4 separate regions of the Homo sapiens genome follow, and regions 2, 3 and 4 are each reported to be linked to region 1. The links are microRNA targets in miRTarBase. Many come from high-throughput screens and were not tested one by one. Region 1 holds a microRNA gene; each other region holds the end of a gene's coding sequence.

Evidence for each region. The annotated mature microRNA hsa-miR-142-3p reads UGUAGUGUUUCCUACUUUAUGGA and lies in region 1 at 3,073-3,095, shown strand. An mRNA with a match to its seed (bases 2 to 7 or 8) in the 3' UTR can be bound and repressed. Matches are read on the target gene's strand: a 7mer-m8 pairs with bases 2 to 8, a 7mer-A1 pairs with bases 2 to 7 and ends in A, and an 8mer does both.
Region 2: the mRNA of BMP8A is a reported target of hsa-miR-142-3p. The part of its 3' UTR that is shown has no 7-base or 8-base seed match.
Region 3: the mRNA of VSIG1 is a reported target of hsa-miR-142-3p. The part of its 3' UTR that is shown has no 7-base or 8-base seed match.
Region 4: miRTarBase lists LRRC32 as a target of hsa-miR-142-3p. Seed matches in the 3' UTR shown: 8mer at 4,259-4,266.

Annotation. Positions count from the first base shown.
Region 1 is chr17:58,327,224-58,334,339 of GRCh38, reverse strand. MIR142 (microRNA 142) reads left to right here and starts at 3,022; the gene lies at 3,022-3,108. TSPOAP1 (TSPO associated protein 1) reads left to right here and starts at 5,545. Exons shown (of 32, transcript NM_004758.4): 1 at 5,545-6,752. The coding sequence starts at 6,420. TSPOAP1-AS1 (TSPOAP1, SUPT4H1 and RNF43 antisense RNA 1) reads right to left here. Exons shown (of 5, transcript NR_038410.1): 2 at 6,219-6,290. It overlaps MIR142HG (MIR142 host genes), which reads left to right and starts at 1,820. Exons shown (of 1, transcript NR_186557.1): 1 at 1,820-3,452. RefSeq lists enhancers at 673-762, 1,353-1,422, 1,923-1,992, 2,793-2,932, 4,723-4,802 and 4 more and silencers at 1,503-1,812, 6,383-6,492, 7,103-7,116.
Region 2 is chr1:39,524,416-39,531,531 of GRCh38, forward strand. It overlaps BMP8A (bone morphogenetic protein 8a), which reads left to right. Exons shown (of 7, transcript NM_181809.4): 7 at 1,234-5,454. The coding sequence ends at 1,383. It also overlaps the pseudogene PPIEL. Among named protein-coding and RNA genes, the nearest start is that of BMP8A, 36 kb to the left of the region's middle.
Region 3 is chrX:108,076,531-108,083,646 of GRCh38, reverse strand. VSIG1 (V-set and immunoglobulin domain containing 1) reads right to left here. Exons shown (of 7, transcript NM_182607.5): 7 at 4,463-6,599. The coding sequence ends at 6,266. Among named protein-coding and RNA genes, the nearest start is that of PSMD10, 11 kb to the left of the region's middle.
Region 4 is chr11:76,653,370-76,660,485 of GRCh38, forward strand. LRRC32 (leucine rich repeat containing 32) reads right to left here. Exons shown (of 3, transcript NM_001128922.2): 3 at 4,155-7,116. The coding sequence ends at 6,235. LRRC32-AS1 (LRRC32 antisense RNA 1) reads left to right here and starts at 3,627. Exons shown (of 3, transcript NR_199061.1): 1 at 3,627-3,787; 2 at 6,239-6,325. RefSeq lists an enhancer at 400-923.

The DNA.
Region 1 (7,116 bases):
GAAAATAGATAAATAAAAATAAAAACTATTGGTGGTCTTTAGGCATTGAGGTTGTACAGAGAAAATCAGCCTCTGTTGTCACAAGACAACAGGCAGCAGGGACACCTCACCCTGCTCAGGACAGGAGAAGGGCTAGATTGGAGACTGTTGGAGCCATGTGTGTCCCTTGGAACCTCAGCTCTGACTCGCCACAGGTCACATGCTGAGGGGTCTATGGCATAGCTGGGCCCAGAAGCCGGGCTCCTGGGTCCCATTCTGTGACTCTCTTTTGTGGGGACAGGACGCCTCTGAAGTGAGGGCTATGGAGGCATCATAAGCAGGAGTAGGAGGTAAGATGCTCTCAGGGGAGGAGCCCTGAAGAATGGGGGTCCAGGAACCCAGGTTACTGCACAACTTTGATATTCTTATCCTCTTATCGCCTGGGGCAGCCACTTCCCCTCCACCCAGGTCAGAGGCAGCGGTGGTCTCTTAAAGGAGTATCGCCCCATTTCTGGCCAGCTGGCCCTGCAAGGCAACCCTCCTCACCACTTTCTCTTTAGACTCAAGGGGGTGAAAGGCCCCATTCCCCCTTTCTCTGTCCCATTTTAGGGACCTGGGAATGGGGCAACTTTCCAGGTTGAAGGACCCCCTTCCTGGAGGGAAGGATGTGGGGCCATCTCCCTCCCCACTGCCCCCATGCCAGTCCTCTTCTAGGCCCTGAATCTGACAGCTCCCTAAGGTCTGTGTGGGCCTAAACGGAGGACCCAGAGAAGAGGTCCATGGCCTTCTGGGAAGGAGTCACTGGGTGGTTTTCTCTCTACCGCTCCTACCTCCCCAAACCCATTCCTCTTGCTTCCAGAGCCAAGCCCATGGAGAGGCTTGGAGAACGCTGGGGGAAGATGGTATGGGCTGGGCTCAGCCGACGCTGTCCCCTGCCCACCCCCACACCCTACTCCCCTCCCCCAGCCAGGGGCCCTGGGCTGGGCAGCTTCCTGCCTTCCCCATGGGGAAATCGGGGGTGGCATGCAGGTGGGTGGGCCCCATGCCCACATCCGGTGGCCGCCAGAACCTTCCCTCGAGCCTCTTTCCCGCCACTCCTCCAAGCCCCCTTCTCTCCGCATAGCACCTGTGCCCCACCTTAGGACCTGATCCTCACCCAGCTCTGCCCTGCCCTCTTGTCCCCACAGGTCCCAAAGAGAGCGTGAACACCTAGCCTAGTGCCATCAGTCCACCGGGCCTGAGAGTGTCCCCCGCACTGTGCCCTGCAGGCTGAGGCTGCAGGAGGGGTGGCTTTGTGGGGTGCTGAGGACAACAGTCTCCATGGACGCCCTTCATGCATCAGCACCTCCATGGCCCTCGGGAGCACACGCAGAGGAGCCAGGGCCTGGCCTGAGTGTTGGGAAGGGAAGGGAGTTTTCTGGGCTGAGGTCAGCAGCGGTGGGGCTCAGAGAGAAGGTCCTTTTCTTGTGCTGGAATTCTGGACTCCCCGTTTTGGGCACTCACCGAGGGCCCTGTCGAGGAGCCCTGGTCTTCTGGGGTCACCCTCAATGCCCTGAGTCAGTCCCAGGCTCTTGAGCCATCCCTTGGAGCTGGTGCCACGGGGGGAAGGGCAGCTGGGGCCGGAAGCCACCTGCCCAGGGCATGAGAGAGGGTCCCCAGCCCTCCCGCGGGCCCACCCCCTTCTGTTTCCTGTCAGTCTGTCCTCCCCAGGGAGGGAGGGAGGGAGGGCGCTCATCCCCTGCGGGCGGGGGCGGGGCGCGCTCTGAGACCGTTGGGCGCCCTGAGATCTGGCCCACGTGGCCTCGGGGTTATAAGCCCTGCCCTCCCTGAAGGGAACCCCACTTCGGAGCCTGGAGCACAGGGCGAGCTCTCCTCCGCCCTGCAGCCTCAGGTAAGGATCCGGACCTTCACTGCTGCCCCAACTGGGGCTCCTCAGCTCGGGGCCTCTAGGGGCTTGGGCTGCTGGTCTGGGTGGAGGCGCGTTGGGGGTGTCGAGGAGCTTGGGTGCAAGCCCCATGCGGGAAGCTCAGGGCAAAGCGCCTTGAAACCCTCTCTAGTGAAGGAAGGTAAAATGGCTCCGGGACCCCAGGCGGGGAAAGAGGTGTCCAAGGAGGAGGGCTGGAGAGTAAGGCGGGGATGGCAGAGGGTACGCAGAGGCTGAGAAGTGGGACCAGTGTCTCAAGGGGCGCCAGCCTCTTCCTCCGCCCAACATGGCCACCATTTTTGTTGGGATAGCCTTGGGCTCCTGCCAGGGGAACAGCAGGGCAGTGAGGGAGTCAGGACTTTGGGCTGGTGGGGAGGCCGAGAATCAAGGCTCTGGGGAGTCAGGACTTTGGGGCTGGTGGAGTGGCTGGGGACTGAGGCCCTGGGGGGTCAGGACCTTGGGCTGCTATGGAGGCTGGGACTGAGGCTCTGGGGGAGTCAGGACCTTGAGCTGGTGGGGAGGCTGGGAATTGAGGCCCTGGTGTGTTCAAGACCTTGGGCTGGTGGGGAGGCCAGGGCCTGAGGCCCTGGGGGGTCAGGACCCTGGGCTGTTGGGGAGGCTGGGGACTTAGGCCCTGGGGGGTCAGGATCTTGGGCTGGTGGGGAGGCTGAAGGGTGGGGACTGAGGCTCTGGGCAGTCAGGACCTCACGGTTGGGGTGGACTGGAGACCAAGACCTTGGCAGGGGAGCTGTGGCTGCCTCATTTGGACGCTGGAGGGTGGCTAGCGTGGCTGGAAGCGGCCAGCCAGGGGTTCACAGAACTGAAGGTGAGGCCTCCAGAGGCCCTAGTCTCTACCTGAGTGTCTCTGAAACTGGGGGGATGGGGTGGAGCCTTTAGGGGGAAGGGAAGAGGGAACTGAAGAGGAAGTGGGGGAGGGAGGTAGAGGAGGCAAGTCTGGCGCCATGCTGAGTCACCGCCCACAAGGCCCAGGGCGGGCCCTCGGGGGGCCCTGGCAGGGTTGGGGGGATCTTAGGAAGCCACAAGGAGGGCTGGGGGGCTCTTGGAGCAGGAGTCAGGAGGCCTGGGCAGCCTGAAGAGTACACGCCGACGGACAGACAGACAGTGCAGTCACCCATAAAGTAGAAAGCACTACTAACAGCACTGGAGGGTGTAGTGTTTCCTACTTTATGGATGAGTGTACTGTGGGCTTCGGAGATCACGCCACTGCTGCCGCCCGCTGCCCGCCACCATCTTCCTCGGCGCTCGGGGACCTCGTGTGACAGGTGAGCACCTTACGGCCCCTCCCTACCCTGCCCAGATGCCTGAAAGGCCTCCATGGCTTTCCTGCCCTTCCTGGTTCCGGACAGCTGGGGAAAGGCCACAGCAGCTCCTCTGCTGCCCTGCAGTCTTTGGGGGCGGGGAGGGCTGGACATGTGGAACCCTGATGCAGCCGCAGCGTCAAGGACGAGGAAGGGGTGGGAAGGGATGGTACGTGGAGGGGAATGGGTGGTGGGACCAGGGACCCAATGCTAATAAAGACTGGACTGTGCTTCTCTTTTGTCTGAGACTCTGTTGCTGGGGTGGGGAGCTGAATGCGGGCGGCAGGCACATGGACAGTATGGGCGCACAGAAGGGCTGGGAGGGAGAACCTCTGTCGCTCCTCCAGAAGATACGGGTTTGGCCCTGCCTATGAGATCAGAAGAGGGCTCTGGGCCTGGCCAGGCCACAGCCGGAGGAGAGAAGGGCCTGGGCCATCTGCAGAAAGGGGCAGGGATGTAAGGCATCCTCTCACCTTCTACCCTAGCTCTGGCCCTATCCTGCCCCCCTACATACCCAAACTGAAAGCTGCCTACATCCAGTTTTAATCTAAGAAAGTCTAGGGGGTCCTAGGTCATATAAAAATTGGGCAAAATCCACTGTGGCACATACACAGCATCTTAGACAAGGGCACAGACACTCATATACAAAGCACACACTGAGATGCAAATGCATTTACACACAGAGGCCCCATTCAGTGTGCCAGTAACACACACACAGACACATGTGACATGACTGGCATGACACACACAGGGATTACACACACCCAGGGCACATACATATTCAGTAGTACACACATGCAATGATAGAAACATAGGGCGTGTCTTACACATAGAAGAGCACACACATACAGTGACATTTGCATAATAAACACGGTGGCTCCATACACATACATAGATAGAGACATGTTCATATATCATGATAAATATAGAATACATAGATACATGGTGATATATATATATAAATCAAACCATGTCATTATGCATATTTACATGACGATATGAGCATGTCATATATTGTGTAATCAATTACTACATTGTGCCATATAGTAGCATCCATATCTATATATATCATGATGTGTTGTAATTTATAAACTCATGCAATGATAGCCTCCCATGCACATAACAGCACACACATAGACACAGTGGCAAACAAACATAGATGCAATGACACAGAAACATACATACAGATACACCCAATGTGTTTTTGTTACGTTTTATTATGTGACTCATAGACACATAATAGCACACACATATATACACACAATGGCCCCTTCACATATACAGAAATAGATAATGTCTATTCTATAGATGCATACTATACACACGCATGCGCATAATGGCATGCATATATACTCTGACCTAAACAGCAACACATCATGCAGTGGCGTGCGTGTTGACCTACACACTGCTTTAGGGAAGTGAAGATGTCCACTCCTCCCCATGCACCCCCTACCTCCAGTTCCATTGGCTCTTGCCTGGGTGGAGCCCACAGTCAGGGGCTCTAGGGTTCAGTATCACCGCTGCTATTCTGTGGGGGTGCCACACGAGGGCCCCCGACCTTGGCTGAAACTGGCTTGCCTAATGAGTCCCGGGTTCAGAGTGGAGAGGGGCTGCCTCTCGGGGCTTCTCCCAACACCCCTGGCTCTGGGGACTCTGTCTAGACCCCTGCCACTGCATATAGACTGACTCCTGGCTGAGGGGATTCTCACGTCCTTGTCCCCCAAATTATTTAGCAACAAGATCTAAGGCTAGACAGAAGATGAACTTCCAGGCAATTCGGGACAAAGCCAACCCAACAGGCCATGTGGGCTTCCCTGGTGGCCTGGGACAGCCAGGTTGCCCCCCAAGTGCAATCTGCCAGGAGGAAGCAGAAGGAATTCTCCGTCTATTTCTACCTGTCTCTTTGCTTGTCTTCCCGGTTTCTTTCTCTTGGTTTCTGTCTCTCTCTTTGTTTCATCTCAAGTCCCATCTTTTCTAGTTCTGCCCTTCTCTGTGGCTGGATCTCTGTCATACCCTCCCCCGTTCTGTCTCTATCAGTCTCACCCGATGTAGGGAGGACCATCTGCACCCCACTCGCCTCTGTACTCCGGAAGGTGTGAGAATGTGTGAAGATGAGGGTGGGAGGCCACATGTGGGAGCCCTGGGCTGACATGCCGTGAGAAACCTGCTCTTCCTTCTGTCCCCGACCCTGTCAGCCGGTTCAGCCCACCAGTCCAGCGCCATCACCATGGAAACCAGCAGCCGACTTCCTATTGGTGGGTGGGAGGGGAGGAGGAGGAGGAGGAGGGGAGGGCTGGCTCTTCCCGGCTCACCCCCCCACCCAATTCTGAGGCTCAGCCCTCCTCGGAGCCCACCATCTCGAGGCTCCTGGACTGTAAGGGACCCCTGCAGTCCCCAGAGCAGAGGCCAGCAGGGGCTGAGACTATGAGGCAAGCAGCCCATCGACCCAGGCCTCCTTAGGACCAGCCCAGCCACCCAGCAAGCGAAAGAGCAGCAGCAGAGAGCAGAGCCGGAGATAAAGGACCACAGCGGACCACTGGGGATCACCCCCAGCAGCTCCTGAAGCCTCTGGCCGGGCTGAGGGGTTGCGACAGACGGCCAGACCCACAGACACTGACAGACACACAACGACACCGATGCACACAGCTGCACGACACTGACACACTCAGATACAACCAGGGACAGCATCACATACTGCCACAGCCCTGCAATACAGACACCCACACACACACACACAAACAACTGGCAACTCTGAAATGGGCAGACAGTGACACACAGCACCACCCCCCTCAACACACAGAAGTGGGGGCACCCATCTTCCCAACACATGAGACAGCATTGACCTGCACGGACAGACCTGGAGACACACACACGCACCCTCACCCAGGCGCAGCTGTCGGTGGCCTCTGCACATCCTCCCTACCCCCACAGGGACACCCTCGCTCCTCCACATACTCGCGCACACACACAGCTACCAGCAAACATAGCTCACATACCCCTGGCTCCAGCTCCAGCAGCCCTGGCGCCTTCTGCAGCCTCCTTTGTGGGTGGGGAAGAGCTCAGCCAACCTTGGATGGAGCGTCGGTGAAGCAAGAGCTCAGAGGGGAGAGGGGCTGGCCTGGCATGACCCTCGCCAGTCCCCCCACCTGGCTGGGTGATGTCCCCCGGCCCGGGTTCTGGGGCCCCTTGGCAGTACCATGGAGCAACTGACAACCCTCCCACGGCCTGGGGACCCTGGAGCCATGGAGCCATGGGCACTGCCCACCTGGCATAGCTGGACTCCAGGTCGAGGGGGTGAACCTAGCAGTGCAGCCCCAAGCATCGCTGATACTCCTCCGGCAGCTCTGCAGCTTCAAGAACTGAGGTCTGAGGAGAGTTCCAAGCCCAAAGGAGACGGGAGCTCCAGGCCCGTGGGGGGAACTGACCCTGAAGGAGCAGAGGCTTGTCTGCCCAGCCTGGGCCAGCAAGCATCCAGCTCTGGACCCGCCTGCCAGAGGCCAGAGGATGAGGAAGTGGAGGCTTTCCTGAAGGTAAGGGATCTGTGGAGGGCTGGGGTCTGCAAGGTGGGGGTCTCTCACCATGTCCTCCAGCCTGGCCAGGAGGTGAGGCGAGGTATGCATCCCCAATGCCCACCTGTCCTCTCTTGGCCTGTCTGTGGGTCCATCTCTGTGGCTATCTGTCCTCTCTTCATCGAGCAGAAATCTGAGGGGCTCCATTTCTTTCGTCATTTGTCTGTCCTTCTGACCCTCTTTGCCTGTCTGTCTAGATCTGGCCCTGCTGCTGCCCCGTCCCTCTCTGTGCCTCCTCCTGACAGTGTGTCTGTCTGTGTCTCTTCTTCCATGAGTCTGTCTGTCCTTAGGGGCTGGGGGATACAGGGGGAGTGTGGAGGTGCAC
Region 2 (7,116 bases), not on the chromosome of region 1:
CAGAGCAGCCGTGCCGTCAGTGGAGTGAGACTGGGCCCAGCCTCTCCACACAAGGAGGGGCACGTCAGCAGCTGGAGGAGGAATGTTCCAGAAGGAGCAAGTGCAAGGCCCTAAGACAGGAGCAGGCTGGCCCTAAGTTCAGGGCCAGCAGGGAGGAGAGGGGCTGGGTGCAGTGAAGGGGAGGAGAGTGGAGGGAGGTGATGCCGGGGTGAGCCAGGCCAGCTCCCGTAGGGCCTGGGGTTCCCTGGGAAGGAGGGTGGATTTTATTCCAAGCAACCCCAGAGGCTGTCAGAGGTCTTCAGCAAAGCAGTGTCCTGGTCTGCGTCACCCTCCAGAAGGACCTTTCTGGCTTGGGGAGGCTGATGGTCGCGGGAGTGGAAGGCAGAGGAGCAGGGGATGAGTGAGGGCTGCTGTGGTCACCTGGCAGGTGATGGCAGCTCGACTGGGCAGGTGGTCCGAGGCAGCACGGAGGTGGAGGTTGAGCCAGGGGCTGCTCTCAGGGAAGGGAGGAGGCGAAAGGAGTCATCCAGGAGGCCTCCCAGGCGGGAGCTATGATGTCAGGGCGGGAGGAATTCTATGTTCCACTGAGGCCTCATTAGACCCCCAAGTGCAGAAGTGGGAAGGGGAGCAGGATCCGCAAGTCTGGAGTTCAGAAGAGAGGTCCAAGCTGAGCCAGGGGAGTGGAGAGGTGCGGGCACATGCAGGGCCTTGAAGTGCTGAGGGCGGATGCAGTCCTCTGGGAGAAGGAGCAGCACAGGAGAGGGGGCGAGGCCTGGCCTCCCAGAGCCTGGGGAGGGAGGCCAGGGTGTGGGGAGGCAGAGCCTCTGGGGGGGTCTGAAGGGCTATAAGAAGACAGTGGTCCTTCCAGGTTCCCCCTTGGGGACCTCACTAAGGGCACAAACCTGGCCATGAGGTTCTCCTTCCCATTATCCCCAGGAGGAAGTCTGAGCCCTTGGCCTGGGACTCGAGGCCCCTCATTAGTGCCCTGCCCACCTGCCCCACACCCTGGGGCTGCCATGTATCCCTCCCTGGGCACTGTGGGCCACCACAGCTCCCGCTCCCAGAGCTCTCAGGGCTGCTCTTATTCCTGTTAATAATTCTTATTATTGTGCTGCTCCCATGTGGCTTGGAGATGGCCAGGGCAGGGAGCAGGTGGAGCTGGGGCGGGGCTAGGTGGGTCCTCAGAGGAGGCCACTGGCCTCATGCCCCTGCCTGTGCTCCCTTCCTGGCCAGGTGCACCTGATGAAGCCAAACGCAGTCCCCAAGGCGTGCTGTGCACCCACCAAGCTGAGCGCCACCTCTGTGCTCTACTATGACAGCAGCAACAACGTCATCCTGCGCAAGCACCGCAACATGGTGGTCAAGGCCTGCGGCTGCCACTGAGTCAGCCCGCCCAGCCCTACTGCAGCCACCCTTCTCATCTGGATCGGGCCCTGCAGAGGCAGAAAACCCTTAAATGCTGTCACAGCTCAAGCAGGAGTGTCAGGGGCCCTCACTCTCGGTGCCTACTTCCTGTCAGGCTTCTGGTCCTTTCTCGGTACCTCTGTGCCCCTCCCCTGGGGTTTGTGGCTGTCACTCTGCCCGACACTTTGGTGGCCTAAGGCACACAGCAGCCTCAGAGCCTGTGCTGACTGCACTGTCTGGAGTCAGCACAGAAGTCCTATCTTAGGACCTGTCAGACTGTGGCTGGCCCCGGATGGTCTGAGGTTGGCTGACCCGAGCTTTTCTCCATTCACCAGAGGGTTTAGGTGTGAGGAGAAGGGCTCTGCCTCTTCCCAGGTACAACACTGGCCATTTCTGGGCAAAATTGGACACGCTTATGTTCTCAGCACAGTGTGTTCTGGGATTCTTCTCATTTGGTCCAGGGTGCAGTTAGCATATTAGAAAAAGAATAAGCTGGACATCCCCACGAAGCCACTGGGGATTTTTTTTTTTTTTTTCCAGATAGAGTCTCACTCTGTCACCCAGGCTGGAGTGCAGTGGTGCAATCCTGGCTCACTGCAACCTCTGCCTCCCAGGTTCAAGCAATTCTCGTGCCTCAGCCTCCTGAGTAGCTGGGATTACAGGGGCCCACCACCACGCCCAGCTCATTCTTGTATTTTTAGTAGAGACGGGGTTTCACCATATCGGCCAGGCTGGTCTTGAACTCCTGACCTCAGGTGATCCACCCGCCCGGCCTCCCAAAGTGTTGGGATGACAGGCATGAGCCACCGTGCCTGGCCACTGGGGATATTTTATGTCATGTGTATTCCCTTGCCCTGGGCCTGCCCCTTCTCCTGCCTGGGAAAGAGGTATGACTCCCACAGGAGCAAAGAATCCTGGGGGCTTCCAGTTCCCTCCACCATCTCTACCATGCTGACCCATTTGGGGCTCAGCACTGAGACAGAGGCAAGACCAGCAGCTCCAACATGTAGTGTAGGCTGGCACAGAGCAAATGCCCCCGCAGCCTGCTCCCCTTGCCCATGGCTCATGTCAGTAATCAACCTACGTACCTTTCCCACTGAACCAGGACAGGGCCTCCAGGCCTCAGCACAGAACTGCAGACAGCCACCACCAGGCATTGTCAATAAGACCTCAGTTCCCCCTCCTGCCCCACTGCAGAGCAATCCATTCCATCCAAAGCAGGGTGACTGGCAGTCTCCGGCCAGGCATGGGGCAAGGGTGGGGACTGCCAGTGTTTGCTTGTGTCTAGGAGTTATGAACAAGCTGGCCACCAAAATTGGCGTCACCCTGGGTGCCCACCAGCGCTGTCCTGTGTCTTGGGTCTGTGAGTCAAAGAAAAGGTCCCTGTCCCAGGGAGTGACAGGCAGTAATTAGGCTGAGTTGGGTGGGGAGGTTTGTCTCGGCCTCCACTGTTCCCGGAAACCGCTGTTCTCCTTGGAACAGCCACTGGGAGTTGGAGTGTTTATTTGATTTCTGACTTGCTAAGCCTGTAATTTACCTGCTGGAACAGACAGAGTCCAGCTGCCCAAACCGTGTCATTAAAAGCAGATCCTGGGCCCGCCCCATCCACAGGCACAGCCTGGCAGAGTGGTTCCACCTCCCCATGGGCCCAAGGATGCGCCTCTCTGGAGTTCACGTGCTGCACCCCCAGGGAGGGGCCTGGGGAGAGCTGGTCCAGCAGCAGGGGTGGAGGCTGGGGCCACACTGCGGGACAGCAGCCCCTCCACCTGGACCAGGGAGGGCCTCCATGTGCAAGCGCAGAGGAAGAGACCCTCTCATGTACATAAAGGGTGGGCCCAGGCTGTCTGGAAGATGGTGAGTTCCCCACTAGTCTAAGGCTTCAAGCTCAGCTAGCAGAGATTGGAAGAGGCAATGGCCTGAGTGTTAGGAGACAGGTATTCTGGTTCCAACTCAGCCACTGACTTGGTGTCAGGACAAGTCCCCTTTCTTATTCACGCTTCAGTTTCTCATCTGCAACATGAGGACATAGGACTCTTTAATTCCAAAGGCTCTTCCAACCCAGAGAACCCATCTGCCCCCATGACCTTCTCCCAGAGCTTGAGACATGGCCTGAGCCCCCTGCTGCCATAGGACTTGGGGCCTATCTGCCATTGCAGGACCTGATTTAACAGCTCTCTTCTTCCAATACTGGGCAGTAGAGTTTCGGAAACTGACAAATGTGTGGTCTCTTCAGTGCCCAGTGTGTAACCTGGCATGGTTTGGGTGTGCTAGGAGTTTGTGAAATGAATGTTTTCAAGACGCAAACGCTGCTATGCCCATCAGGTGTGCACAGCAGGCCTGAGGATCATGATGAGACTCCCTTTTTATGCAGCAAAGCACAAAGTGTGACAGTCGTGGCCTTCCTGGTGGCCAGACTTCTAGCAACTTTAGCCACCCACCAAATGACATCACATACAGAAGGCCTCAGAAAGGGAGGAGGTCGTAAGGACACACAGCTGATGAAGGGTCAGTGCTCAGCTATCAAGGTCATCTTCTGGCCTGGTTGCCTCCCACAGCCCAGGATGCATTCAAGGCTGCACATCAGGAGCATAAATAAGGGTGGTCAGCTCAGGCCCACTGGCTGCAACAAGTAGCCACTGACAGGGAGTCTGGGGCCATTTGGTGCAGAACAACCCCCAACCCAGTGGCCATCTTCACAACTGCAGCACAGTGCTGGCCCTAATGCCAGGTGAGCGTGCAAAGTCCTGTTTCTTTGTCTTTACATAGGGACCGGGCGATGCGCTTTAGAGAAATTCCCTATTATTTCACAGGAAAGGAGGCTGTGAAAAGGAGAGGGCAGGTTTTGGAGCCAAGTCGACCTGGCATCAGGTCCTGGCTGCCTTTTTTTTTTTTTTTTTAAAGACATACATGGTCTTGCTTTGTCGCCCAGGCTGGAGTGCAGTGGCAGTGTCATGGCTCACTGCAGCCTCAACCTGCTGGGCTCAAGCAATCCTCCCACTTCAGCCCGAGTTGCTGGGATGACAGGCACACGCCACCATACCCAGCTAATTTTTAAATTTTTTATAGAAACCAGGTCTCACTATGTTGCCCAGGCCGGTCTTAAACTTTGCCCAGGCCAGTCTTGAACTCCTGAGCTCAAGCAATCCTCCTGCCTCAGCCTCCCAAAGTGCTAGGATTACAGGCGTGAGCCACTTACCCGGCCTCTGCCTCTTGTTAATTTGACCACATCATGTACCTGCTGTGCCCGTTCCTTCCTCCGTAGAAGAGGGTGCTGGTCCTGCCCTTTTGAGGCCTCCATGAGGGCCAAATGTGCCATGGGACACTTAGTGCCATGCCTGCGCAGACCTGTGGAATAAACAGCAATTCTGAGCAGGCTCATTTTAAAGGGACTTGCAAATTTGGGCGTTCCTTGTGTGCCTTCCTCATAAAACCCACTCCTCCCAGAATATGCTTAGAGGTGCTGCTGTATTTACCTGAGAGCTATGCTTTTCATCAAAAACCTAAACGTGATCATCTCTTGGATGAGGTGTGGCCCTGCACACTCGCCTGCTCGTGGAAGGAGTCTGGGCCAGCAGTGACCCACGCGCTAGGGTCTCTGCTGAGGAAGTGGCAGGTGTGCGGCCCTGCCCTGGCCCCGTAGTGAGTGTGGGGCCCACCTGTGCCCTCATGGGCAGCTGAAGGGGGAGCTTTCTACCCCAGGTTCCTTTCCTTACTGAAAAGTCTTGAGCAAACAGTTGCCGCTCTCCACCCCCTGCTTTTTAAAAAAAATTTTTTCTCACGTAAGAAAATGTTATCTGTGTGCTGGGGAAAATTTTGAAAATAACAAAAACCAGAATACAAACACCCATAATCAATCACAGAGATAACCACTGTTCATAATTCCTTCCAGTCTTCTTACTTGGCACATATACATTTGTCTTTCTTTATATATGACATATGGATATTTTACAAAGTTAGGATCCTACTCTATGCACTGCTTGGTGATCGGATCTATTCAATGTACAAAATATTTTGAAAGTTTCTGTGATTAAATGTTCTTTGAAAACATAACTTTTAGCAGCCTTCCATCCCTTCAGTTCTGCTTTAGCTTCTCCCTTGTATGTCTGGTCTTGCGTTCCCTTCCTCAGAGGCCGGGATGGGGCTCCTGTGACCAGGGTGGCAGGCAGCCTAGTGCTGAGATCGCATGGCCACGAGGCTGGCCATGGGTCTGGAATCCCTGGGCCAAGAACCTCCTCTCCTTCTCTGTGCAGCAATTGGCACAAGCAGGGGCAGGTGCCTCACCTCTGAGGCTTAGGTGACCTCAGAGTACAAGGGTCACAGATGGACCCACTGGGATAACTTCCGGGGAAACCCTGATGGTTCCTCTCCCACTGGCCTCTGGCTGGTCCCTTGGTCCCTCCTTCCCAGGGTAATCAGGCAAGCACAGCAATAAGGTCCTCCCTTGTTTCACAGGGTTGTGGGACCAGTTCTCCCTCCCGGGGCCTCGGGCCAGCCTGCCTGTCACCCCCAGAACCCACAGTGTTGAGCAATTCACACACATCCTCTTCTCTCCTGGGCTTCATGGCAGCCCTGAGTAGCTGCCTTATCCTGGCCTCAATGCTGCCTGTCCTGACGGCCATGACTGACCACCAGTAATGACACCGACATTGAGGAGTGAGAGTGCCTGCTGGGAAAGCTGCAGGCCCAAGCTGATCAAGCGGGGAGAAGCCCCACCCAGGGTGCCAGAGGTGGAGCTGGCTTGGGGTCACTGGGGCCAGGGCAATAGGCTTCTCCTTTCCCCACCACCCTCACCCTGGTGGATACTCAACATCAAGACTTGATTCAGCCAGCATTCTGGGAGGCCAAGGCAGGTGGATCACCTGAGGTCAGGAGTTTAAGACCAGCCTGGCCAACATGGCGAAACCCCCATCTCTACTGAAAATACAAAAATTAGCTGGGCATGGTGGCGGGTGCCTATAATCCCAGCTACTTGGGAGGCTGAGGCAGAATTGCTTGAACCTGGGAGGCAGAGGTTGTAGTGAGCTGAGATCATGCTCCAGCCTGAGTGACAAAAGCAAAACTCCATCTCAAAAAAAAAAAAAAAAAAAAAAGGCTTGATTCAGACAGAGCTCCTAGGACATGTCATGGGAGCCAGTGGGCAGCCCTGGGGGAGGTTTCTGGAGACTGATAGGGCTCAGTTTCAACACCTGAAAGAGGCCATGAGGTGGCCTGGCTGGCCCAAAATCGGTGCAGGGTGAGAGGCCATCCTAGCACAGGCTGCGCACCATGACACCACACTGCAGTTTCCAGGTAGGCCTGGGGTTGGGGAGGAGGAAGTAGGAGCCACCCCTGGCTTGTTTCTCCCCAGCACCAAGCACATCCGCTGACTAAAGAAGCGCCCTGTGTGCTCCTCGGTAATACAGTTCTGTTGGTTCAGGAAGTGCATAATGAGTGCCAGGTCAGTGAGACTGATTACAAATGTCCATCAGGCACAAGACCAGCTGGTGTGAGAGCAGGAATGGTAACTGACCAGAAAGAAAAGACACAGGCACTTTTACATGGCTTTGACTTCTACTGCCCCACAATGGGCTGCCGAGGGCATCTCCTAAGGGACTTGGCCTAAGAGAGAAGAGCAGCAGCCGAGATGCTATGGCCTGTCCCAGCAGCAACCTCTGAAAACACCTGGGACCTGGCTGGCAGGCAGCAGTATAAGAACTAGAATTTATTTTAGCA
Region 3 (7,116 bases), not on the chromosome of region 1:
TTGTCTGTTACAACTGAAGACATTTACTCTTCATAAATATTGAGTTAATTGTCTGAGGTGATAGGTTTCGTGGGTGTAAAAGGAAATTCATCCGAGTTCTTCAATAAGCAATACAGATGGAGCTAAGCCACAGGTAATTTGTAGGCTTTTGGCATTTTAAATGGCATGACTTGTTAATATTTAGATCACAGATTTGTATAAAATAAAGATATTAGTGGCCTCGGATATTGATCAGATTGTTACCTGTGTCTGTAGGAAAGGTGTTAGAGATGAAGCTGATTCAAGGTCAGCAGATTTTACAGTTTCAAAACATAATTTGGCTGGGCATGGTCGCTCATGCCTGTTATCCCAGCACATTGGGAGGTCGAGGCGGGCAGATTACCTGAGGTCAGGAGTTCAAGACCAGCCTGCCCAACATGGCGAAACCCCATCTCTACTAAAAAAATTAGCCGGGTGTGGTGGTGGGCGCCTGTAATCCCAGCTACTCAGGAGGTTGAGGCACGAAAATTGCTTGAACCCAGGAGGTGGAGGTTGCAGTGAGCCGAGTTGGTGCCACTGCAGTCTAGCCTGGGTGACAGAGCGACAATTCATCTCAAAATACATAAATAATTTAATGGTAAAGCTTAACTGAGAATATACGATGGAAGAAAAAGGCCAATGAAAATAGTGAAAACATTTACATTCTTAAATATGTTATAGAGAATTACAATTTCACTGAGGTTTTGGGAACTTCAAAGTAAATCTGTGTTTTTCTTCATAATCTTTGACTTAACATTTAACTGTATGACACTAGTGTTTGATTCCCCAATTTCTCAGCTGTACCAACTACAATGAATTCCTTAGATGGCTGCGTCTGCTGCTTTCTGCTCCCATATTCTGTTACACTACAAGGCCTCCAAATCAATCTGTTGGCAAGTCTGATAGAGTATAAAGATTCTTGACTTTGTGGTTTATGGCTCCAGCTTCACAGTTCTATTGACTGCCTAAAATTGAAAGCAGAAATTTGTAATGTGAATTTCTCTGGGAAGAGGATTTATTGCTTTCATCAAATTCTCAAGGACATCTGTGATTCCCCCAAAAGGTTAAAAATCCCTGGTTGAGACAAAAAAGAATACTGAATCAGTTGTCAGGAGACCTCATTTCTACAACTATAGTTCTACTACAGTTTTTTAATTTATAAGTTTTCACATCTATTCTCACTGTAGTCTTTAAGAAGGCAGAAATCATCTCCATTTTACAGATGAGAATATACCCAGAGCTAGAGAAACAGCCAGTACCAAAATCTAGCTTTCCTGGATTCTAATTCATTTTCTTTTCTGCCTCTTCAAAGACAGTGGACCAAATGGAAGGTATTCTGGCATTTTGAAAATAACCGGTTAGTTGAAACACCTATCCTGGTGCTTTTCTTTAATTTGGCTGTGACGTAATAAGAAATACATATTTGGTCTCAGCCCCCAGTACCTGAAACAGAGCTCCTAAAACCCTTGACAGTTCCTGAGTGATAGGAGTGTCTTACATAGAGCTTCTAAACCCCTTGGGATTTCCTGGGTGATAGGAGTGCCTTTTGTTCTAATGTTGCAACTCTTAGTGGGCTCCTGGATAGCTTTAGAACGGGGGCTATTAGTGACCAAGCCATGATTAGAGGATTAGAACTTTCAGCCCCAACCCCCCATCCTCCAGGGAGGGAAGAGGGGCTGGAGATTGAGTTAATAGTTGATCATACCTATGTGATGAAGCCTCCATAAAAATTCATAAACTACAGGGTTTGGTGAGCATCTAGGTTGGTGACACACCCACATGCCAGAAGAGTGGTACACCCCCACTCCATGGGAACAGAAGCTCCTATGTTCAGGACCCTTCTGGACCTCACCCTATGTACTTCTTCAGCTGGCCATTCATCTGTATCCTTTATAATGTCCTTTATAATAAACTGGTGGACAACAGTGTTTCCTTGAGTTCTATGAGCCATTACAGCAAATTATCAAACTTGAGGTTGCGGGAACCCCCAATTTGTACCCAAGTCTAACAGAAGTGTGGGTACACTGGGCACCCAATACTTGTGATGTGTCTGAAGTTGGGGGCAGTCTTGTCAGACCCAACCCTGGGTAGTGTCAGAATTGAATTAAATTGCAGGACACCCAGTCAGTGTCTGCAGAGAATTGGAGAATTACTTGGTGTGGAAACCCCACACATTTGCTTTCTGAAGTGTTGTGAGTAGTGGAACAGTTTTTCTTTATTGGCATATCTTTTTATGGTTTCCTGGAGCCCTCATTATCATCTCTGAATTATTTGTTTTGTTTTTAAACCAAAGTTTCAAAGACAAGTGGGAGTACTGAGTCTTTATCGATTAGTTTAAACCTTTTATGAGGCCCACTGATGTGTTTTCCAGCAGGTAGACATTGTAAAACAACTTTTTATTACTAAAGCTTGGGTTTGTTTCACTGAAATTAGTAGTTTGGTGCAGTTGAAAAGCATTGCCCTGAAATCCAGATGATGTGGATCTAGTTTTGACTTTGCGTAATCTCAGGCAGATTATTTTACTTCTCTGCACTCAGGGATTCTCCTCTAGGGGCTGGGTGGCAATATATAAGAGTGAACCAGCTTTTTAAAAGAACATTTACCCCTTCCTGTCTCCCCCACCAATAATTTAATTGTACATCATCTCCCACCTCCAGCTTCATCATTGTTAGGAGTGGCCCACTGTATGTGTTATAACTCAGGTGTGCTGGGGTTGAAAAAGTTTGAATACTATTTATTTCAGAGCACTCTTCTAGCTCTGATCAAAGTTGATCAAAACTGAGTTGCCCAGAGTAGATTGAATGGGTGGTAAACCACCTGGTTTGATTTGAGAGGGGCTGAGAAGTTTCCTTTTTTCAGAAATATATCTCCTCTGGATTGTTTAGACTCTTCAGATTAAGGATTATCTGTGCTTGAGTCCTCTTTAAAAGGTAAATACTCCAAAGAAGACTAACTCATTTATCAACCTAATGAGATCACTGAATGATGAAAGATCATGTTCACTGGACAAGAACAGGTTACAGAACAGCTACTTTAGGTCCTGCGCAATGAGTCTTGCCCGAGGGAAGAAGAACTGAGAGGGTCACTGAGCTAATGGGAGCATGAGAATCCTGGGTGTTTGGAAAATAAGATGCCACAAGGCCAGAAATGGCACTGAAAGGAGAGATCCAAAGGTACGAATTCAGATTAATCTCATGTGCTTCCTAACCTTGCCCATGTAGGGTTTCTGCCTGGGCAACATGTACTTCATATTTTTAAATCCAGATTTTTCTATTTATTCCTGTCAAATTCATTTTGTTGGTTTCAACTCCACTTTTGAGCTATCAAGATCATTCTGAATCGTGATTCTTTCTTATAGCCTAGTGGCCATTCCCCCTAGGAGCAAGTCATCCACAAATTTATTAAGTGTACTTTGTGTGTTTTGATCTAAGTAACTGTTTCTTCATCTTGGATTCAGGGAGTCTGTAACTCACCTGAAACTATATGTGACACTTTATGTGTATAAGCATCTTTCAGTGAAGATGAGTTTAGAGTTTTCAGCAGATTCTCAAGGTGTTCCATGACCTCAGAAAAAGGTTACAAGCCACTGATCCAACTATTCATCAGTATTTTGAACAGAACAGTGCTAATAAGGACAGAGCTCTATAAGACTACCAGTAGTGCTTTCTTTCCTGGACTGCACTGATCCATCAAAAATTTTGGGGTGTAATTGTTGACTATTACATGTCAGTCTCTTGCGATTTGCCTCTATAATAAAAATGGAAAGGAAAAATGAATTCCAGCTACTTGGGCATTCTGGTAATTGAGATGTTTACACTGTTGTTTACTTTTTAATCTCTAAATATTAGGTCATTCTTAAGACCTTCATTATTTTGCTTCTTGTGTCCATCAGACACCATATACCATACTATCATATTTAGTATGAATGAAATTATAAATGCATCAGAAATCCCTGACATTTTCTGAAAATGGACGCATCGAAGAAAATGCAGAAATAAACGCTTGCTATCTCTTCTCTCCATGGCTCTAGATAAGTGTAATGTTAATTTCCATTTTAACTCTCCTTAAAACCTACAGAGACTCTACCTCAATCTGTGTATGGTTATGATTTATATAGAAAGGAGTTTGCAGTTTAAGAAAATATTTTACATGAAAATCTGAAAGTGATAAATGAGAAACTCACTACTTTGTTTAAAAAGGATTCACCTTAGAAGGAAGTGAGACACAAAAAGTACATACTGTATCATCCCATATGTATGAGGGCCAAGAAAAGGCAAAGTTAACCTCTAGTGATGGAAAACAATGAGTGATTTCCTAGGTCCAGGGCAATGGTGGGATCGCACAAAGGGGCATGAAGAAACATTTTGGGCTGATGGAAATGTTTTCTCTCTAGATGGGTGTGGTGGTTTCATGGGTATGTGCTCTGTCAAAACTCATCAAATTGTACACTTTAAATGTCTGGTTTATTATACATAAATGCTATGTCAGAAAAAGTTGTTTATAAAAGGACTAGCCTTAGGAGTCACTAAAATGAGACATTATGAGTATTATTTATTGAGCCTTAAAGTAAGATTTAAATATGATTAATTCCACAAGTGAAAAGGTAAGTCTACCTGTAAGTTTCTTCAAGGTGAGATGTGGGTGAAATATGATCATGAGAAAGCTTTTCAACAGGGGAAGAAGAAGTGATATCAGTGCATTTTAGTAATATTAGCATTCATATAAGATTGGTATCGCTTTATTAATGTGGAATGTACAGGCAGTAAAACAGGTTATTTAATTAGTTGAAATTATCTAAAATAGATCTTAAGAGTTCACTTAGAACACTTTTCTGGACTGCCTTTCAAAGTAGATAACATCAGACACAGTGATAACATAATAACTCATTCAAAACTAAATTGTACATCACCTATGATATCAACATTTTGTATTCACTGAAGGAAATTATATTTGAAAGTGTTTGCCTGTACATTATTTGACAAAGTTGTGGGGATTTTTTGTTTTTTGTTTGTTTGTTTTCTGTTTTTGTTTTTGTTTTTCAGATGGAATCTCACTCTGTCACCCAGGTTGGAGTGCAGTGGCACAATCTCGGCTCACTGCAACCTCCACCTCCTGGGTTCAAGCGATTCTCCTGCCTCAGCCTCCCAAGTAGCTGGGATTACAGGCATGCACTACCACGCCCAGCTAATTTTTGTATTTTTAGTAGAGAAGGGGTTTCGCCATGTTGGCCAGGCTGGTCTCGAACTCCTGACCTCAGGTGATCCACCTGCCTCGGCCTCCCAAAGTGCTAGGGTTACAGGCAAGAAATTGTGTTATTTTTTAAATTTGCCATGCTCAGATATTGGATACCAGGGTGATTTCTTGGGAAATCTAATATGAGGAATGAAGCATTAATTATAAGACCTGATTTTAAATGCTACGTACCAATTAATGTATACCCTTTACATATTCTCCTCTATTGTATTTGGAGAAAATTTTCCAATCTATGAGATAATGCTGATGAATTATTTTCTTAGTGGTCAATATAAAAATGAATGAGGAACTATTCCTAGAAATAATATTGAATCTAATTAATGCCACCTTGTCATATGTGCATGTGGAACATAAGAGTAGCTAAAAAGAGGCCGGGCGCAGTGGCTCATGCCTGTAATCCCAGCATTTTGGGAGGCCAAGGTGGGCGGATCATGAGGTCAGGAGATGGAGACCATCCTGGCTAACAACGTGAAACCCCATCTCTACTAAAAATACAAAAAATTAGCCGGGCGTGGTGGCACGTGCCTGTAGTCCCAGCTACTCAGGAGGCTCAGGCAGGAGAATCGCTTGAACCCAGGGAGCGGAGGTTGCAGTGAGCCGAGATCGCACCACTACGATCACAGCCTGCGCGACGGAGCAAGACTCTGTCTAAAATAAAAAAAAAGAGTAGTTAAAAAGAGAGAAATAATATTTTCTGAAATAACAACACAGGTACTGTTGCAAAACTCAACTAAGTTAGAAATCACTTGCCCTGTCATTTGTTATGCTTACGTGTTAGTAAAATTGTTAGTATTCTATATTGGTAATACAGGAACCCTTGCTGATTTAGCTGTTATCTTGGCGTGTTTATTCTGGATTCATAGTAGGAATGAGCACCTTGTTAGAAGAAGGTTGGTCAAAATGGAAGGAGGAGGTGGAGGTTGGTTAGGTTATTTGAATTCCAAATGGCAGTAATGGGTTCCTTAATGATTAATGCTGTACTTAGGCCACCAGCCTATGCCTTAACCACTCCCTTTTCATCTTCACTTAAGGGCTCAACTACAACCCCAGGCTCTGACTCTGGCTCTGGCTCTGGCTCTGGCTCCAATTCCGACTGCGTTTCTGGCTCCAGCTCCAGCTCGATGTCAAGGTCAGGCACTGCCATAGGCTCTGATCCTGGGGCAGGCTCTGGGGCAGGCTCCTGAGTAGGCTTTGGCTCATAGTCTGGTTCTTGGATGGTATCAGGGCCAGTCTCATGAATGGAAGATGGTAGAGTTACTTCTAGTTGGGTAGCGTCTTCTCTTGGCATTGCTTCGCTTTCTCCCCTTGGGTTTATCTTTGTCATTGGCCTGCAAGAAAGAAGGCCCAGAAAAGAACAAGTTAGGGAGATGCTAACTTTGAAATTTCATGTGAAACCATATGTTCTGTAGCTTCAATGACCATAGGTCCCAGACTTCAGGAAATCTGTTATTTCTGATATTCTGACTCATTGTCAGGCCATAGGTCATTTTGGATTCAGAAAGGTTAGGTCTCAACAATATCATGAAAGTTTAAGAAAGAGCAGTGTTTCAAGGTGGGAAAATAATGTCAGAATGAAAGAGTCTAAGAATCTAATAAGGTCTTTAAGGTCCAAATTCATAGCTCTGATGTATCGCTATTTCTCACTCCATCTAGTACAATACTTGGCACCTGGTTGATACCCAATAGATAGTTGTAGAAGCAAGGAGATGAAAAAAAATGAATGAGTGAGATACACACTAGGAAAGAAATAGAGTGATTAAGAGCATGAGCTGTGGGCTGGGCCACATTCTAACTTCTGTGTTCCCTGGGCACTGTCCTTGTGGGTCTCTTGTTCCATAAAAAAAT
Region 4 (7,116 bases), not on the chromosome of region 1:
TGTCCTCAGAAAGGATTCTTCTGAGTCCCACCCCTCAGTGATCTTGCCCTTCACTCCCTTTCATAGCCCTCATTACAATTTGCCATCGTTTTTGTTTGTGTGTGATTAATGTCTATTTCCCAAGCGCCACAAGAGGAGGAACGCTGCCTGTGCAGCACCCAGTATGAGATGCGGCAGGGTCCCGGCAATGCTGGCTGCTTTCAGTCATTTGCTCACTCACTCTCTCCTTCATTGACTCAATCTTTTCTGCATTTCTTTATTCATTTTTTCCCTTATTCACTCCAGAAACATGCTATTGGTCCATGCCTTTTCCCGATCTGAATCTTCCGCTTTCTAGGGTGGCTTTTTCAGAGAAGGAGGGAGTGGGGACATGATGGCAGAATTCTGGGAATGCATCCACAACTTGGGAGGGCCTAGCTGGGTGAGTTGGAAGCTCTCCAGGGAAGGAGGGAAGATTTCAGAAGGCTGGAAGTCCTGAGCAGAAGGTGCTGAATGAGGAGAGAGGAGAAAGTGATGCGATGGAGGCTGGGCCAGGCAGACCCCTCTACTCCCAGACATGCCCTGGCTCTTCCTGCTGCCAGGCCTTGGGTCCTGCCATTTGTTCTGCCTGGAAAGCCTCTTCCCATCTCCACGTGTTGAAATCCTACCCTTCCTTGCAGAGCCAGCCCAGATGTCCTCGAAGTCTTGCCTCACTTCTCCAGCTGGAAGGGCTGCTCCCTGCTGCAAACAAACTTCCCGAGCACAAAATCTGGACCTCCCTCAAGGCGCTGACCACTTCCTGGCTTGGGTTGTGGTGTGGCCCCTCTCTCCACCCCATAGACAGAGGCTCTGTCCAACTGTTCCCTGTATCCCGCAGGGCCTAGGGCCCAGCACAGAGCAGATGCCCAAGCCACTCTGGCCGAACGAATGAGCAGTGCTGAGTTTGGGGGTGTGGGCGATGATTATGACCCCATTTTACAGATGCAGAAATAGAGGTGCAGCTAAGTGACGGTCTTGGCCTTGGTCCCACAGTGAGGAAGCAGCAGAACCTAGACTCAGGCCCGTGTTTCTGGTCCCAGAGGCCAGACTCTTTCCAGGGCAGCTTGGTGGGAGGTGAGGTAGGGTGGGGTGGAGTGAGACTGGATCCTGGGAACCAGGAGGCCAGGGAGAGCTGGAGTTCGGACGGCCAAGTTCACGGAAAGCGCAGCTGGGGAGGAGCCAAGGTATTTATTATGCTTGGTCTCCAGTTCCAAACAGAGCTGATGGATGGAGCTGCTCCAGTTCCTATAAACAGCTCGGGCCTCCCTCTCCCCCACCCCGCCCTCCCCATTCTCAGCCACCACAGCCCAACTGTTTCCAGTGCGATAGGGGTGGGGGTGGGGGGAGATGACCAAGAAGAGAAGAATGGGAGACGAGGGGGAGCAAAGGAGGGGGGGAGGACAAAGATAAGACGGGGTCCTAGAGGCCTGAGGAAGCTGCAGGGAATGGAGGGTGGTCAGAGAGGATTCTTTGCCTCCCCACTGGCCCCTGCTGCCGTGGGCAGCCCACAGTCTGCATTCCCCTGTCCTCTCTGTGTCCCCTAGGTCTGTTCAAAAAGCCTCCTCACCACACTCTCTGAGGGCTTGTCTCAACTCCACAAGCTTCTGAGTCCTGGAAGACAGGGGCCATTCACTCAGAAAACCTTTTCTGAGCTGGCTTTAGTCTGTGTTGGCTCACAGGCCCTGGGGACAGATAGGACTCCAGGTAGGACCTCCCCCCAGGACCTCCTGGCCTGGTGGGTGGGTCAGGCAGACACCCAATGCTGAGGGCAGCCCAGACCTGTGGGCAGCTGGAGGAGAGAAATCCAGACAGTCTCCCCAGAGAAGGTGATGGAGGTGATACAGGCGAGGGTGGTGAAGGAGATTGTGCAGGTGGGTGGGGGGGTGAGCTGGTTCCGGCAGAGGAGGCGGGAGAGGTGCAGGAGGCAGTGCTGCCTAATGGTTAAGACTGCTGGCTCCAGAGTGGGACAGCCTGGGTTCAAGTCTCATCGCTGGAGCTCAGTTCTCTAAAATGAGGATGGTAACAGTAGAAATCTCTTCAACGGCTGTCAGAATTAAACATGACAATCCACATCCAGTGCTCAGCATGGGCCCGCCCGGAAGTGCTCAACAATGGCCATCTCTGAGCATGTTGTGAGAGGTGGCGGGAGAGAGATGGGCCTCATGGGCTCAGTGAACTGCCTGAAGGACAGGGGCACAGAACACAGACGGTGGGTCCCAGATCCTGGAGGATGTGGCCAGCCTGTGGGTCTGAGAGGGTGAGTTGCTGGCGCGTCCCGGGACCCGTTCCTGGTGGAGTGCCACGCCAGCGCATGGAACCCCAGGAGTTGGGCCCTGCACCTCAGGCTGACTGTGACCTGGGAGTGGCAGGGCCTCCCCTCTCCCTGCAAGCTAAGAGCTCGGGAAGCTGGATGTTCTGATGACCTAGTTGGCTGCTGTGTCCACGTTTGGCTGAAAACAGGAATTTCTGCCTCACCGGGGGTCTTGGCCAGGTGAGCAAACTCCCTGTTTGTCAGGAAAAGGGGTCAGGGGCCTGCTGGGCTCCCTGCTGGAGCAGAGGCCCGCAGACCCTAGGCGAGCTCAGCCCAAGCTCCTGCTTTCCCCTTAGGCCTTCACGGAGCACCTATCGTGTGCCAGGGGGTGGGGCTCTCTCCTTTCTCCCCCAGCCCTACCCCATGAAATAGGTGTTTAGAATTTCCCTTTGCAGACTGGGAGCCAGGAGCAGGAATGGGGAGGTGAGAGGGCACGGACCAGAGAAACGGAAGAATCTCCAGGAGGCAGAGCTGCCAACGCTGGGCCCAGGGGCTGCAGGGCCAAGGGGAGGGGTCCAGGCTGACTCGGGGTGGGCAGGAGAAGCATCACTGAGCAGGAGCTTGGGGGAGAGGCAGTCAGGGAAGGGAAGGGCAAAGGCGCAGTGCCAGGCTGCTGACAGGGCGAAATGGAAGGTGTGAGGGCCAGAGGAATAAGCACCCCCTGCTCTGCATGCTCTGCCCTGGCCTGTCACGCCTCTCAGTGCTCCCCTACCCAGGTGAGGCTGCTTCTGTCCCACACCCGACACTCACCCTCCAACTCCAAGCCAGGAACCAGGTGTGGTTTTCTTCCAAGTTCAACCTTGATCTGCAGCCTGGCTGATCACTGAATTCTCCAGTCCCTGGGGACCTTTAGCCCTCTACCTGGGAAGGCCTCTGGGTAGCAGAATTGGACTTTCAGGAGAGGTGGGGCTGGAGACAGAGATGTGGGCCATCAGAGCAATGGGGTGTTTACAGCAATGAGGCCATAGTGTTCCCAAGGGAAAAGGGCTTAGGATGGAGCCCTGGCCATCACCACTTAAAGCTGGCTCAAGGAAGATGAGCAAAGAGTGGCCTGAAAAGGAGTGGCCTGGGAGGGAGGAGATGGCTTCCTGTGTGGGATCACAGCTGTGGGGAGAGCATGCCCAGCAGGGGTATGGGTGGGGGGCCTGCTGCACAGGGCCTAGGGAGAGGAGGTCTGAAAAGCGTGCTGAGTTTGGCAAAGGATACCCTTGACGCTGTTAGCAAGGGCAGCATGGAGCTGGGAGGGGCTGAAGGCAGCTCCAGGCGGGTTGAGAACGGGAGGGGCGGGAAGGGAAGTGACTTTACCAAGAACCTGGCCTGTGAAGAGTGGGAGGACGAAGGGGAAAGTGGCTGAGGGGCTTCTCACTATTTTTAAGACGGACAAGACTTGAGTCCAGCTGAAGTCTGAGAGGAAGACGTAAACAGGGAGAGGCTGGAGGCAGAAGAGAGCATGACGGGGTAAGGGAGAGAGGACGGGGCTGGGGACCCCAAGGAGGAGGGGCAGTGCAGCCTCTGAGATAGGGCACAGAGGGCTGAGCACAGAGAAGGGGAGGGGGCCTGTAGCTGTAGCAGGAAGGAAACAAACGGAAGCCCTCAGCCTCTCAGCCCTGGGGTGGGGAGCACAGTCGCCTGTTGAGTGTGGGGCAAGAGGTGTAGCAGGGGCCATGCTAGTGGCTGCGGCTTCAAGGTCCAGGGTGGTGCTGGCCCAGAGTCTCAGTGTCCCCAGGGATTTGCCATGATGATTGAACGACCGTAATGGGATTGAGCGGCAGGGTTCTAGTGGACGCAATGAAGCGGATTGCAAAGAGGAAGCTGGCAGCCACACTGCTTCTCCAAAATTAGTTTTTAATACATTCAGGTAGGTTATACAAAGAGTTGGTCCCGAGGCCTGGGCTGAGGCCTGGGCCCTGGGAAGTGACAGCAGCCCTGTGTAGTGTTTTCAAAGATCAGGCGTGGGGACCCACACCTTGGCCTCCAGGCCTAAGGAGGAGTGTTACGTGCAGTAGCACCCGTGGGTGTGATCCCAACCAGGACTGGGTCTGCCTGGGTGCTCCACACACCACCAGGGCCTAGCCCTGGCTCTGCCCATTGACTCTCCCTTAACTTCCTCTGGGCCTTGGTGTTCTCCTCTGTAAAATGGGGTGGAGAGAGTGGCATTTTCACTTTCTCGCACATTACTGAGCCCACATCATGAGCCAGACTGTGGGCCAAGCACAGGTAAGATGATGAAGACAGCAAAACAAGGTCTTGAGTTGGTCCCAGCACGTCCATTCTTCCCAGACAGCTCATGACTCCATGGTATGAGGGATGGGGGTCATCTGGGTGAGGCTTTTTACCTGTTTTTGTAAGAGGGAAAAAAGATCCTTGCATGATGAGGCACAGAAAGGAAGTTTGGAGCCAGCATTATCTTGTGATGTGATAGCTGAGAGAGGACATCACTCTGGTCCAACCCCCAATCTCACCCCACAAATAAGGGCTCTTTTTTCCCCCAGAGGCTCTGTATAAGCTCTCCACAAGTTTCATTCTCTTCCTAAGCCTCAGTTTCCCCATCTGTGCAATGGGGAGGTTGGATTCCATAGTCTCAAACTCCAGGCTCTGCTCAATAGAGGAAAAGGGAATGAGAGAATGCAAGAGCACAGAGAGAACAGGAGAACCCACACCAGGGTGGAAAGGAAGGGAGGAGGGAAACAGGCAGAGAAGGAGGAGAGCGCCTGCAGCTGCCTGCCTGGGAGAGAGGAGAGAGCAGGTGTGCACAGCACAGGATGCTTCCAGACCCTGCTCGGGCTATGTGGGGCCACTTCCTGTCCACTTAACGGCCTGCAGCCCCTGCAGTGGTAAAGATCAGGCCCTGGAGACAGAAGGATGAAGGTTTGAATCTCACCTATGGCATTAGTTAGCTGGGGCCCTGGAAGGAGATTTTCAGAACTTCAGTTTCCTCTTTTATAAAACGGGGATAAAATATAGAGCTGTCACATAGGGGCAGACACAAGGCTTGGATTCAAATCCACATCTGCCAAGCTGGGTGCAAAACAGAACCAGATATCTAAGGTTTTAGCTCCTGGCTCAGCAGCCAAGGTGGGGCTGCGATGGAGAAGTGGGGCTGGGCAGGGACGGTGCTTAGAGCAGCACTGGGGTCAGGGTATGCAACATGAGAGTGCCAGGAAGGGAGAGGGCAAGTCCAGAGCAGGAGACGGAATGGTCCAGTGCTGGGCTGGACCCCTTAACCAGACCCTGCTGGAGCCGCCGTGGCCCACCTAACAACACCAGATCCGAGACACACTCGTACAGCTCCAATTCTCTCTTCTGGTCCTAAGCTTTTCATTTTCAGAGAGACTGAAAGTCATTCTCAGAAGACGTGACAAACAGTCTGCTTGGAAATGTCTCAGACAAATCCTCCTGGGCTTGGCCCTCCCTCACCCTGGCACAGCCGGGGCAGGACTCACCGCACCAAACCAGCGGGGCCTGCCGAGCTCTGGAGCCCTGGGCTTTCACACCTCAGGCCCTAAGCACACTGCGTGGCGGCCACGTGGCTCTGCAGCACTCTCTCCTACCAGACTGGGAGATTCTTGAGGGCGGGAATGTATCTCATTTCCCAGCATTCCCAGTGCCCAGAGCAGGGTGTGGCACAAAATACATGCTCAGTGAAGATTTGTTGATCTGACAGGTCAACATTATTCTCGGCTGTCCCTGAAACCGCCCAACTTCTGGCTTCCACAGCTGGACCCAAAGTGCAGCCCGGGAAGGGGGTCACCCACTGATGCAGCAGGCGGCAGAGAAAGGTGTCCTGGGCTGTAATTTGGAGACCAGAGTTCTGGGATCCCGGATCACTGTGTGACCTTGAGTCAGTCCTCACTCTTCTCTGTACCTCAGGCTCCCCCACTGACCTAGAGTGTCTCCCGGCTTCTTTAGGCTTTATACTGTTGGTTAAACTTCTGCCGGCGGACGCAGCAGCAGGCGGCCAGCGTGGTGAGGAGGATGGCAGAGACCAGTATGAAGGTGAGGATGATGATGAGGTTGATGTTCTTCAGTCCCCCCTTCTCACAGTCCTCGGGACGCACGTGGCTCAGGGACACCTCCTCCTGGGAGCTGAAGCGGCAGATCAGGTCCTGGGTGGCGTCCACGTCCACACGGCCCTGGTGCAGCTGGGCTGCCAGCCAGCCATTGCCGCAGCAGCTGAGTGGATTCCCCTGCAGGTAGAGGCGCCGGAGGCTGGTCTCCAGGCCACCCATGGCACTGCCTGGCAGGAGGCTGAAGCTGTTGTTTCGCAGGTCCAGCACCTCCAGTGACACAGCCTGTGTCCAGGCGGGAAGGTGGCTCAGGCGGTTCTCGGCAAGATTGAGCCGCTTGAGGCAGATGAAGCAGGGCAGGTCCACCTGCAGGACCATCAGCCCGTTGCCCTGCAGTGCCAGGACCTCCAAGGAGGCCTCCAGGCCTCCCAAGGCCCCCGTGGCCACCTCCAGCCCAGGATTGGAAGAAAGGTCCAGCTCAGTCAGTGGGGTGTGGAGGAAGGCCCCTGCCCTGAGCAGCTCTATCTCATTATCCACCAGGCTCAGGCTGCGGAGGGAGGTGATGCCGGAGAAGGCCACACAGCCGGAGGGGCCAGGCTCATCTGGCCCCCCACAGGGGCTGACTCGGTTCCCCTGCAGGTTGAGCCGCTGCAGGCTGGCCAGATTGGCAAAGGTGTATGGGGGCAGGTCCCGCAGGGCATTGCCCTGTAGGAGCAGCGTCCGCAGAGACCCCAGGGCTCTGGCGCCCAGTTCCAGTGTCTCCAGGGCATTGTGGCTTAA